Homo sapiens: one gene and its partners. The protein of the gene in region 1 purifies or fractionates together with the protein of each later gene. This does not show direct contact. Each region holds a gene or a part of one and is shown on either strand. Other genes may lie near its edges. The genes, in order: H2BW1, CEP78 and ARHGEF40.

Region 1 (4,420 bases):
AACCCAGCAGGTGGAGGTGGCAGTGAGCTGAGATCGCACCAATGCACTCCAGCCTGGGTGACAGATTGTTGTCTCAAAAAAAAGAAAAAAAAAGAATTAGAGAAACAAAATAAGGACTATATATTACAATTTTGCATCACGTAGATGATGGGAACATCCTGTGAGAGCAGCTCATGCCATAGTCACCACTGGCTCAGGCAATAAAGGCTTTCCAGCCCTTGAGGCACCACAAGCCATGGCTGAAAGTGTGGGGAGGTGACCCGGAAATGAACCAGTGAGAGCCTCCCTGGGAGGTTTAACCTTGCAGATTGTGAAGAAAAACGATGTGGCTCTTTCCCTGTTTTTTGTTTGCTTTTTTTTTTTTAAGAAAAATATCATGCTGACTTACTGATATGAATACAGAGATTGTTGTGGACAGGTCTCTTGTGCCTTGTACCAAACTACGAGAAGGATTGTCTTGCTAAACGTTTAAGTAGATTTATAAGATCATCATTTGTAAAGGGGACTGTTCAGAAATGGTGTACTAGAGTTCAGTCACAGAGCTTACCATATACGATCTTATCTAACAACAAAAATGAGCCTTTTTGTCCTTCTTAATCGTGAACCAATTTATTAGGAGTAGAATAAGTTGTTTGCTAAAGACATGACAGGAAATACACTTGAAAGCCTGACCTTTGAAATGACAGTTCATCGATGACCTTTATTTCTTCAGCATTTCTTAAGAATCTTTCTTGTTCAATTCCTGCAACTTAATGTTACTTAAATGCATTTAAGGAATGCCTTTGCGTATATTATCAGAGACTCTTGAAAGCTCTCTTTCTAACTTGAACATAATTTCCATTTCTGGAATCCCTTTCTCTCCCTCAGGGGCTTCCTAGGAGATTTAAGGCGATATTTTTTAACCCAATATCTCTTAAACTTATTAGCCATTTCCAGCTTTTGAGTTGTGATTTGTGGTTGTTGTTTTGCTTTCCTTTTTTTTTTTTTAATTATTTTTTTAAACCTGGTCGATGTCGAGTGTTGTCATATGTTTTTAATAAAAGTGCCTTTCTGTTTCTATTGTCTGCTTGGAGGCTGGGGTATGGCCATTTCTCATTCTCCTGATTCACGGAAGATGTTGATCAGTACTGAAGCCCGGAGCCAGACCGCTAGGTCCTTTGATGCCCAGGCGGCCATGTCAGGGAGTTCCTGCTCAAGCCAGGGTGGCTTAGCCCAGGATAACAGTAGCTTCTGAGATGGGTGACAATTGTTCCACACGTGGCCACAGTCATTCTTCCGGCATAATGGACTTGGGCTCAGGAGGTCTGTCTCTCCTCAGGGATCATGAGCTGAAATTGCTAAACTTTGGGAGTTTTCAGTGACACCCTTCAAAGTGCTCACAGTGTGGCATGGATCAGCTGAGAAGGGCGGATGCGCTTTTGCCCCGTGAGGCATCTATCTGTGTAACTTTCTCCGAGCTGGGCCACAAGGGGCGCTTAGGCCCGCAGACGCCCACTGTGATTGGTTGACGAGATGCCACGCAACGGGACCATCCAGTCACCTTCAACGCAGGTAGGTTTGCTGAGAGGCTCCCTGCGTGACACTTCATCCAATCAGACGTGAAGCTGGCCCGAGACGTGGAGCCATGCTGCGTACCGAAGTGCCCCGGCTTCCCCGGTCCACAACCGCCATTGTCTGGTCGTGCCATCTAATGGCCACTGCCTCCGCCATGGCTGGACCTTCCTCTGAGACGACCTCTGAGGAACAGCTGATCACCCAGGAGCCCAAAGAGGCCAACTCCACTACGTCCCAGAAGCAGAGCAAGCAGAGGAAGCGAGGGCGCCATGGGCCCCGCAGGTGCCACTCCAACTGCCGCGGGGACAGCTTCGCCACCTATTTCCGCCGGGTGCTGAAGCAGGTTCACCAGGGCCTCAGCCTTTCCCGGGAGGCCGTGAGTGTCATGGATTCTTTGGTTCATGACATATTGGACCGCATCGCCACCGAGGCTGGTCACCTGGCCCGCTCCACCAAGCGCCAGACCATCACTGCCTGGGAGACCCGGATGGCTGTGCGCCTGCTGCTGCCGGGGCAGATGGGCAAGCTCGCCGAGTCCGAAGGCACGAAGGCTGTCCTCAGGTACACCAGGAGCAAGTGCGCTCCCTCAGGAGCACCCGAGCACCACGGGAACCCAAAGGGTCTTTTCAGAGCCACTGAATGTGGCCTGAAAGACCAGTGGCTCGCCAAGGGGGACACCACCGGAGGCTGGGGTGGGTGGTGCCCTTCCGACTTGGGGGGCATGTGGCGTGTGGCATCCTGCAATGTTTCAAGCATTTTCCCCTCAGTACTAAACATTGTCAGCTCCAATATATCTGTAGTGCAGTTTGCTCCAAGGAAAAATAGTGGGTGTTTCCGTGATCGTGTTTCATTTCCTCAGTTTCGTAAACGGTCATTTTTGTTAGTTATGTTTCTAGGCTATCTATATGGTGATATTATTACTGCACTGATCTTTACCTTTTTCTGTCTCATTCTCCTGTGACTGGATGGTGGAATTTTCCAGAACTTCACTGTATGCCATACAGCAACAGAGAAAGTGAATACGCTGATACAAGAAGCAAGGTAACCCTCCTAAATGTTTTCAACACCGCTCCCATCACGAATCCATGTAAATAAGCAAATGAGGCCAAGTTACAGTGTACATACAGCTAAATAAAATTTTCAAGAATCCGTTCATTTTCCAGCTTCCTCGACTCTGAGATCACTATTGCAGTTCATTCTTTTTTTGCCATGACGATAATCTTTTCGTTTCTTTTTAAACAGAAACCTTCGTTACTTCCAGGTTTGTGTCAGTAGGCTTAGGGAGTGTCCACAGAAATGGCTCATGCCCTAGTGTTCAGTGGTGTAGCCAATGAGTGACTTGCAGTCTATGAGCAACAGTCATTGTCCCAGTGTGGGGGCAGTGAACCAGGCTGAACCCACAACAGCCTTGCACTGATATGCAGTCTGGTGTTTGGGGGGACAGGGTTGTGATTCTTTACCTGATGTTTTTGTTTTCAGTGTTTGTAATCATGGTCATTTAAGGATATGAATCCAGTGCTAGGAGTAGTATATGTTCCTTGCCCCTAGCATCAAGTTATGCAGAGGATGGTCAGCCTTTAGGAGAAGTCAGATAACGCTTATTTCCTCAAGAGATTTGCATATTAATATTCATGTTAATGTTAATATAGGTTAGCTTTCATTGTGCTTTCTTCTGGGTCCCAAGTCTTTGTATTTTTAGCACTTTTTCCTATGAGTGTATTGTTGAATTTCAGAGCAGCTGCTGACTTTCCCATTGCTTTTCTTTTCAGAGGATCTCCAGCCGCCCGAGTATGTGGACCAGAGAACATACTCTGGGATTGCGACCCATAGGAATTTATTGTATTGTGCCTTGAAGCTCAATATGTGGCCATTTTTGTCAAATGTTTCCCGTGAATTTTGAAACATCTCATAAACAACCTTTCTCCTTCATATGTAGAAACCAGTAAAGGGTGACACTCTCAGTCAAACCATGAAACAAAAGCTGGGAAAATGACAAAAATCAAAATTTTCTTGAGCCCATCAGAAGTGGGAAAGAACCACACCAGATGGCCCAACACATAGCCACATAGATTATTCCACCTTTGGCAGAGGACCGTTTGGTCAAGAGGGAAATGGGGGCATGGCAGGATAGTAGCCAGAGCTTCCCTGAGTAGTGCATTTGGGCAGCGTGGGCAGTTCACCTCCAGAGCTCCACTTGGGCTCCGTAGAGAAAGGATGTAGGGCCAAGAAGTCCCCTCATTGGGATTTGCTACTTTCTGTTTTTGCAGAATATTAGAAAAATGTCATGAAAATAGTTGAAGAGAAATGCTCACTGCACAAGGAGACCAAGAAAAACCCCCCACGAAATCAGCCACAACTAAATCGCTCTGGACGGTGCCGCCAGGTGACCCTACATGTCCGGAGCAACACTTTGAAAACCAAAGACGCTTGGCAGAACCCTGTTCCTTTCCAGAGACAGAGCTGTGTACCTTGTCTAAAACACCGCATCTCACTCAGTGACTTATTTCTCATTATGCTAATTGTTTTCGCTTTAAAGCGCCAGTCTTTCTGTCAAATGGGACATACAAATAAATTTCTAAAATTATCCTTGCATGTCTACTGGGTAATTTGACATGTCTTTTTCAGAAACCGTATCCATTGGGATATTTTACCCTGGAGTGTGTGTTTTCCATTTGTAAATTCAGAAATGAATGAGGAGCATTAGTAAAACAGCGTTAACAATGAACTCTGATTGGGCTGTGGGGAGTGAAGAGTGAGAGTTCAAGGGGACTGATGCCGGTGAGTTATAGGAAGAAAGAGAAAAAGGCTGCTTTGATGTGAAGATGGGCAGAGGAGCTCACACATCTGCTATAGCATTTCAGTGGGT
Region 2 (3,648 bases), on another chromosome or scaffold:
TTTGAGAGTCACTTGGAATTTGAATTTGAATTTGATGATGAATCTAGTGCAATTTCTGAGCTCCACCCAGTTTTTGCCTGTGATGTTTACACTGCCACTAGCATCCTTGTTAATTATGAACAAATATTCATTCTGTGATGTTTTATGTAGAGTTATTTTTCAACTCTGTAATTGTAAAATATGTTGGGTAATTTATTGGTACTAAAGGGAGGGTAATCATGACACATCTATGAAGAGGGTTTCTTTTTTGTATTATGTGTGTGCATATGGTTTTCTATTTTTATTTTTTCAATACCCAAGATTAAAAACTGGCCATGAGTAGTCTTGGGCAGGAGTCTTCCAGGCATGAATAAGTGGGAGTTGTCTGTATGTTAAATCTGTATAGAATTGGCCGGGCGAGGTGGCTCACGCCTGTAATCCCAGCACTTTGGGAGGCCGAGGTGGGCAGATCACAAGGTCAGGAGATCCAGACCATCCTGGCTAACACGGTGAAACCCTGTCTCTACTAAAAATACAAAAAAATTAGCCATGCGTGGTGGCGGGCGCCTGTAGTCCCAGCTACTCAGGTGGCTGAGGCAGGAGAATGGCGTGAACCTGGGAGGCAGAGCTTGCAGTGAGCGGAGATAGTGCCACTGCACTCCAGCCTGGGTGACAGAGTGAGACTCCGTCTCAAAAAAACAAACAAACAAACAAAAAATCTGTATAGAATTAGCAAGTGACCCTTTGTCTTTCATCGAAAGCTCTTGACCTGCAACAGTGCGGCCTCACCAATGAAGGAGCAAAGGCTTTGCTAGAGGCCCTTGAAACCAATACAACTCTGGTCGTTCTGGATATAAGAAAAAATCCACTCATTGGTATGTCGCTACAATATTTTTTATTGACTAACAAATAGCAAAAGAAAAAGAATTTCTCATGTATTGACAGTTTTGAAAACTTAATGTGTTTCCTTCCCTAATCTTACACTTTTGTAATCTTGCACTTTCTTATGTTTTTAGTAGATAATTTACTGATGAAAAGAGTTGTACTTAAATTGCTCTTGGCTGCTACTCTGAATAGGAGTGAACCTAGATAATAAATCTGCTTCCACCAAGTGCATTATTTTCTTCTTGTGGAACTTCTGAATTCTTGGAAATAGTATTTCATTCATTTGTTGATTTGACAAGTAATTTTTGAATACTTCTATCTGCTAGATACTGGTTTAAGCACTAAACATACAGCAGTAAACCAGCTAGACAAATTCTTGGTCTCATAGAGCTTACATTCTAGTTGGGGAGTTATACGTAATGTAATTTAGATAGTAGGAAGTGCAAAAATACCGTAAGGTAAGAAGACAGATGGGGGCAGGTGGGACTATATTAGATAGGTTTTTTAGGGGACAGCTTCACTGAAAAAGGGACATTTGAACAGAGACCTGATTAGGAGGGGAACAAGCCGTGGAAGATGCAGATAAAGTACCTTCCAGGATGAGGAAGCAATGAATATGTAGTTACATAGGTGGCAGGGTGGATGGAGTATTTAAGGAAAAGCAAGAAGGCCAATATGGTTGGGGCACTGAGTGATGAAGAGACTGGTATGCTACAAAGTCAGACAACTAGCCAGGGGCCTGATCTTGTAAGGTTTGAAGGTCACGGTAAGGACTTAGATAATTCTAAATGAGCTGAAAACCATGGGAGGATTTTGAGCTGGTAAGGGTTATATTCCAAGTAGTAATTCAATCAGATGACTTGGTGTGGAGAATACACTTGTAGGGGGCTATAAAAGGGAAAGAGGGAGGCCAGTTAGGAGACTCACACTGGTTCAAGTTAGAGATGGCTATGGCTTCACTTAGGGTGGAAGGTTGGAGGTGGTAAAAAGTGGTTGAAACAAGGTGTAGCTAACAAGACTTGTGGGGTATAAAGGAAATAGTAATTTTTTTAAAAAGTCCTAGGTGATTTTGCATACAACTGGGTGGTACTGTTTATAGAGAAAAGGAGGCTGTGGAGAAGAGCAGCTTTGGGGGCGCATCATGACTTTGATTTGGGTATATTAGGTGCCTTTTAAGCATCTAAGTATCTGGACAGTGTTTAGGCTTTTGATTTCCTATTTAGAGGTATCTAAAGCTACTTTAGTTCCAAAGTGTTTACATTTGATCTTTGCTGCTGCCAAAATAGTAGCCATCAGGGACAATATGTGTGTAGGAATACTTTGTTTTTGAGGAAGAAGTTAGAATACTCAAAGGGGGAAAAGGTATTTAATTACATTATGTGGAATTCATATTCAATTTCATGGGAAAAAGCAATAATTGGTTGGCTTTTGTTTTTAAATGGGAATAGCCACTCATTGGGAAATAATTACTATAATTTCAATTTTTATTTTACTTTAGATCATTCTATGATGAAAGCAGTTATCAAAAAAGTCCTCCAGAATGGAAGGAGTGCCAAATCAGAGGTATATCATGTTTTATTTCTCCAGAAAGAATTCTTATTTAATTGCTTTTCTTCTGGGATCTCACTGTACTGCCCAGCCTGGCCTCAAACTTCTGAGCTCCAGTGATCTTCCCCCTTCCCAGCTTCCTAGGTAGCTAGGACTGTAGGTATATATCGTTGTGCCCAGCTTTTCGTCTGTTTTTAATAAAATGAAACTATTAAGGCACTTTTCTGCCATCTTAAATTTACAGTCAAATCAAATGTCTTTTCTGTTTTTGTAAATACCGTATGATTCTTTAATTTTGGGTCCCAGAACTGCTGATTGCAAACCTTTTATTAACATAGAGTATCTTAACAATTTCCATTTAAGATGTAGCCCTCATAAATGATCTGTAACTGAAATATAGTGTTTATTCTGTCTCTTTTAGTACCAGTGGATAACTTCTCCATCAGTGAAGGAACCATCCAAAACTGCTAAACAGAAAAGGAGAACTATAATTCTAGGAAGTGGTCACAAAGGAAAAGCTACTATTAGAATTGGTAACCTTTTCTGTCTTGGCTTTTTAATGCTACTAGTGTTCTAGTGTGTTAAAATTAAAATCTCTTCTCATTGTATGATATTGACAGTAACAACCAATATTGACTCCGTGCATATTATGAGGTCTGTAATTGTTCTGATAAGATTATGAGAATTTATGGAATGTAGAAATAGTAAATGAATCATTAGGAAAGGGATGCTAGTGCTTCCATTTAAAAAATTACCCTTATTTGTTTTTCATACAATATTCATCATTTTGGATATGTTTTCTGATTCATGATTACTTTTGATACTTTGCAATTGAAATTTGGGATGCACTTTGATGACAGTTTTAGCAGTGCTTTTGTATGATTTTGTTGTTAATGAAGAATTATCCTTTCATACGATAGAAAACAAAATTTCTTCCCAGTTCCATTTTTTTTCCCTTGTTTCCTCCTCCTTCCTTGCAAATTCTTACCCAAAGTTGTTGAATTAGGTAGCACCTTGCTTCTTTCAATGATGAAATAACCTTAAAATATATGTAATCCTTATAAAACAATACTGCAGGTAAGTTTATTACCCAGAGATGGAACATTTTAGACAAACATTCCCTAAATGTTTGCTATTTATGGTTTATTTAATCTGCCAAATAATAGTCTAGAATTTTGAAATTGTCTATAATTTTGTGACCAAGAATAATGAAAAAAGACTTTATAAACTGTTTAT
Region 3 (3,648 bases), on another chromosome or scaffold:
CGGGAGGACGCACTGAGGTACACGCTGGACTTCCTGGTACCAGCCAAGCACCTGCTTGCCAAGGTCCAGCAGGAAGCCTGTGTGAGTGGCCGTGCATCACTATTCTGCCTTCCCCAAGATCCACTGCCACACTCTACAGACTAGCCAGGCTGACTAATGCCCCCACTAACCTAGAGATACAGCCTCCCTTGAAACCGATCTCTCCAGAATCACTTAAGCTTCATTCTCTGACCTCTCACAAACTTTGACCTTCACAGGCACTGACCATTCAGATGCTAACACACACACACACACACACATTCATCTTCCCCAAATTCATCTTGACCCCAATACTGACCCCCAAAGACCCTAACTCTCCAGACCCAATTCCAGACATCTTCTCCCCCTCATATGAATTTCTCAAGACACTAACTCCCCCGTACATTAGTCAACAGAGATCATTCATTTCTACAGATATAAAGACTCCTAAGAGTCTTTAGCTTCTCCAAGACAATGGCATCTGCTGACCATGTCTTGGTAACGATTCAGTTCTTACCCTCCCACACATGGAACTAGCTTCCTGAAGAATCTTCCTACTACTGGGAGACCGATCAGTCCCAATCCCTTCCTCTCTGCCACCTGAATACCCCAAATCTCCCCTCCTGCTCTCCTGAGAGTATAACCTTCCAGGCATAAGGCTGGTCCTGCCTAGGGTGGGCCCATTCTAACTGCCCTCTCCTGCTGGTTTCTTCAGCAGAGGCCTGAGTGCAGCCTCCCACCTCTCTCCCCAGGCCCAATACAGTGGATTCCTCTTCTTCCATGAGGGGTGGCCGCTCTGCCTGCATGAACAGGTGGTGGTGCAGCTAGCAGCCCTACCCTGGCAACTGCTGCGCCCAGGAGACTTCTATCTGCAGGTGGTGCCCTCAGCTGCCCAAGCACCCCGACTAGCACTCAAGTGTCTGGCCCCTGGGGGTGGGCGGGTGCAGGAGGTTCCTGTGCCCAATGAGGCTTGTGCCTACCTATTCACACCTGAGTGGCTACAAGGCATCAACAAGGACCGGCCAACAGGTCGCCTCAGTACCTGCCTACTGTCTGCGCCCTCTGGGATTCAGCGGCTGCCCTGGGCTGAGCTCATCTGTCCACGATTTGTGCACAAAGAGGGCCTCATGGTTGGACATCAGCCAAGTACACTGCCCCCAGAACTGCCCTCTGGACCTCCAGGGCTTCCCAGCCCTCCACTTCCTGAGGAGGCGCTGGGTACCCGGAGTCCTGGGGATGGGCACAATGCCCCTGTGGAAGGACCTGAGGGCGAGTATGTGGAGCTGTTAGAGGTGACGCTGCCCGTGAGGGGGAGCCCAACAGATGCTGAAGGCTCCCCAGGCCTCTCCAGAGTCCGGACGGTACCCACCCGCAAGGGCGCTGGAGGGAAGGGCCGCCACCGGAGACACCGGGCGTGGATGCACCAGAAGGGCCTGGGGCCTCGGGGCCAGGATGGAGCACGCCCACCCGGCGAGGGGAGCAGCACCGGAGCCTCCCCTGAGTCTCCCCCAGGAGCTGAGGCTGTCCCAGAGGCAGCAGTCTTGGAGGTGTCTGAGCCCCCAGCAGAGGCTGTGGGAGAAGCCTCCGGATCTTGCCCCCTGAGGCCAGGGGAGCTTAGAGGAGGAGGAGGAGGAGGCCAGGGGGCTGAAGGACCACCTGGTACCCCTCGGAGAACAGGCAAAGGAAACAGAAGAAAGAAGCGAGCTGCAGGTCGAGGGGCTCTTAGCCGAGGAGGGGACAGTGCCCCACTGAGCCCTGGGGACAAGGAAGATGCCAGCCACCAAGAAGCCCTTGGCAATCTGCCCTCACCAAGTGAGCACAAGCTTCCAGAATGCCACCTGGTTAAGGAGGAATATGAAGGCTCAGGGAAGCCAGAATCTGAGCCAAAAGAGCTCAAAACAGCAGGCGAGAAAGAGCCTCAGCTCTCTGAAGCCTGTGGGCCTACAGAAGAGGGGGCCGGAGAGAGAGAGCTGGAGGGGCCAGGCCTGCTGTGTATGGCAGGTGAGATGACACGGAGTGAGGCTCATGGGGCAAGGGCCAAAGCAGGTCGGGCCTATGGGAGGGGGCAGGAGGAGGAGCAGGGTTAGGCTGGGAGCAGAACAACCAGAACCATCTTAACTTCAGTCCCATGTTTCTGTCTGTGTCTGTGCAGGACACACAGGCCCAGAAGGCCCCCTGTCTGACACTCCAACACCTCCGCTGGAGACTGTGCAGGAAGGAAAAGGGGACAACATTCCAGAAGAGGCCCTTGCAGTCTCCGTCTCTGATCACCCTGATGTAGCTTGGGACTTGATGGCATCTGGATTCCTCATCCTGACGGGTCAGTGGGCATCAGTGGGTGAAGGGAAACAGGACTGGGAAAGAGAAGCAATTGGGTGGGCTTGGGGACTGGGGGAGGCAGGGTGGAAAGGAGGTAGGCATGGACTGCTCCCAGCCAGGACAGCCTGGCCATTTTGTGTCTTCAGGAGGGGTGGACCAGAGTGGGCGAGCTCTGCTGACCATTACCCCACCGTGCCCTCCTGAGGAGCCCCCACCCTCCCGAGACACGCTGAACACAACTCTTCATTACCTCCACTCACTGCTCAGGTAACCGAGGCCCAGTCCTGGCACCCTGGACACTAACCTCCTGATTCATGAGGACCCTCACCTCCTTCTTCTCAGGACACTGACCTTCTGACCTCTAAGGACACCTACTTCTTCAACCTTCAGACTTCAAGCCATTGACCTTTGGCCTTACTTACCCTGACCTCCAGCTTCATATCTTCACTGATCTTCAAAAGCAACACTGTTGACTTTCACTCTCTTCCAACCCTACCAAGATCATCAGGACATTGGTTCACTGATTCAACAAACATTTATTGAGCACTGAGTACCTATTAGGCACCATACTACAGGCTGATATTGAATGCACGCCATTTCAGAACAGAATTCTTAATTTTCCAGACCTTAATCCCTTGACCTAGTAGCCATATGAATATAGACCCCTGACTGCTAGGTGACTTCCTCTTGTACACACACCCCAGAATTTGGCCCTTTGCCCATTTCTTCCCAAATGTACCGGCAACTAATTTCTCCTCAGGACTATTAACTAAAAACAGACCCCGTATGTCTGCCTTGCCTTATCTGCTATCCCCCAAAACACACACACAGCAGCCTCCTTGGCTCTTCCTGCTCCCGCAGGCCTGATCTACAGACACTGGGGCTGTCCGTCCTGCTGGACCTTCGTCAGGCACCTCCACTGCCTCCAGCACTCATTCCTGCCTTGAGCCAACTTCAGGTAACCACCCCTCAAACAGGCAGTTCCCCTGGATCCTAACTCTTCACCAGTGGCCAGTCCAGGACACCCGATTGCCCAGTTTAGGGTTATTCTTTTCTGCCCTTAGGACTCAGGAGATCCTCCCCTTGTTCAGCGGCTGCTGATTCTCATTCATGATGACCTTCCAACTGAACTCTGTGGATTTCAGGTTTGAGCCCTTCATTCCCATCTAGTTTCCCATCAGTAGTGGGGAGAGGAGAAGAGGCTGGCTGGAGCCCCAGGCTGGTTTCTGAGTCCTTGGGTGCCCAGGAAGAAACCCCCTGCCTTACCCTCTACAGGGTGCTGAGGTGCTGTCAGAGAATGATCTGAAAAGA

The links.
Region 2: the proteins of H2BW1 (region 1) and CEP78 purify together in Homo sapiens (co-immunoprecipitation; one large-scale study listed by IntAct). This does not show direct contact.
Region 3: the proteins of H2BW1 (region 1) and ARHGEF40 purify together in Homo sapiens (affinity purification with mass spectrometry; one large-scale study listed by BioGRID and IntAct). This does not show direct contact.

Annotation. Positions count from the first base shown.
Region 1 is NC_000023.11:104,010,865-104,015,284, reverse strand, and holds H2BW1 (histone H2B type W-T), read left to right. Parts: upstream 1-1,576; 5' UTR 1,577-1,708; coding exon 1,709-2,115; intron 2,116-2,536; coding exon 2,537-2,573; 3' UTR 2,574-2,595; intron 2,596-3,821; 3' UTR 3,822-4,138; downstream 4,139-4,420. UniProt on the Homo sapiens protein: Atypical histone H2B that can form nucleosomes structurally and dynamically indistinguishable from those containing conventional H2B.
Region 2 is NC_000009.12:78,245,929-78,249,576, forward strand, and holds part of CEP78 (centrosomal protein of 78 kDa), read left to right. Parts: intron 1-740; coding exon 741-854; intron 855-2,362; coding exon 2,363-2,427; intron 2,428-2,833; coding exon 2,834-2,945; intron 2,946-3,648. UniProt on the Homo sapiens protein: Centriole wall protein that localizes to mature centrioles and regulates centriole and cilia biogenesis. Involved in centrosome duplication: required for efficient PLK4 centrosomal localization and PLK4-induced overduplication of centrioles.
Region 3 is NC_000014.9:21,073,162-21,076,809, forward strand, and holds part of ARHGEF40 (rho guanine nucleotide exchange factor 40), read left to right. Parts: coding exon 1-81; intron 82-770; coding exon 771-2,019; intron 2,020-2,170; coding exon 2,171-2,338; intron 2,339-2,461; exon of another isoform or gene 2,462-2,483; coding exon 2,484-2,604; intron 2,605-3,198; coding exon 3,199-3,295; intron 3,296-3,374; exon of another isoform or gene 3,375-3,401; coding exon 3,402-3,482; intron 3,483-3,612; coding exon 3,613-3,648. UniProt on the Homo sapiens protein: May act as a guanine nucleotide exchange factor (GEF).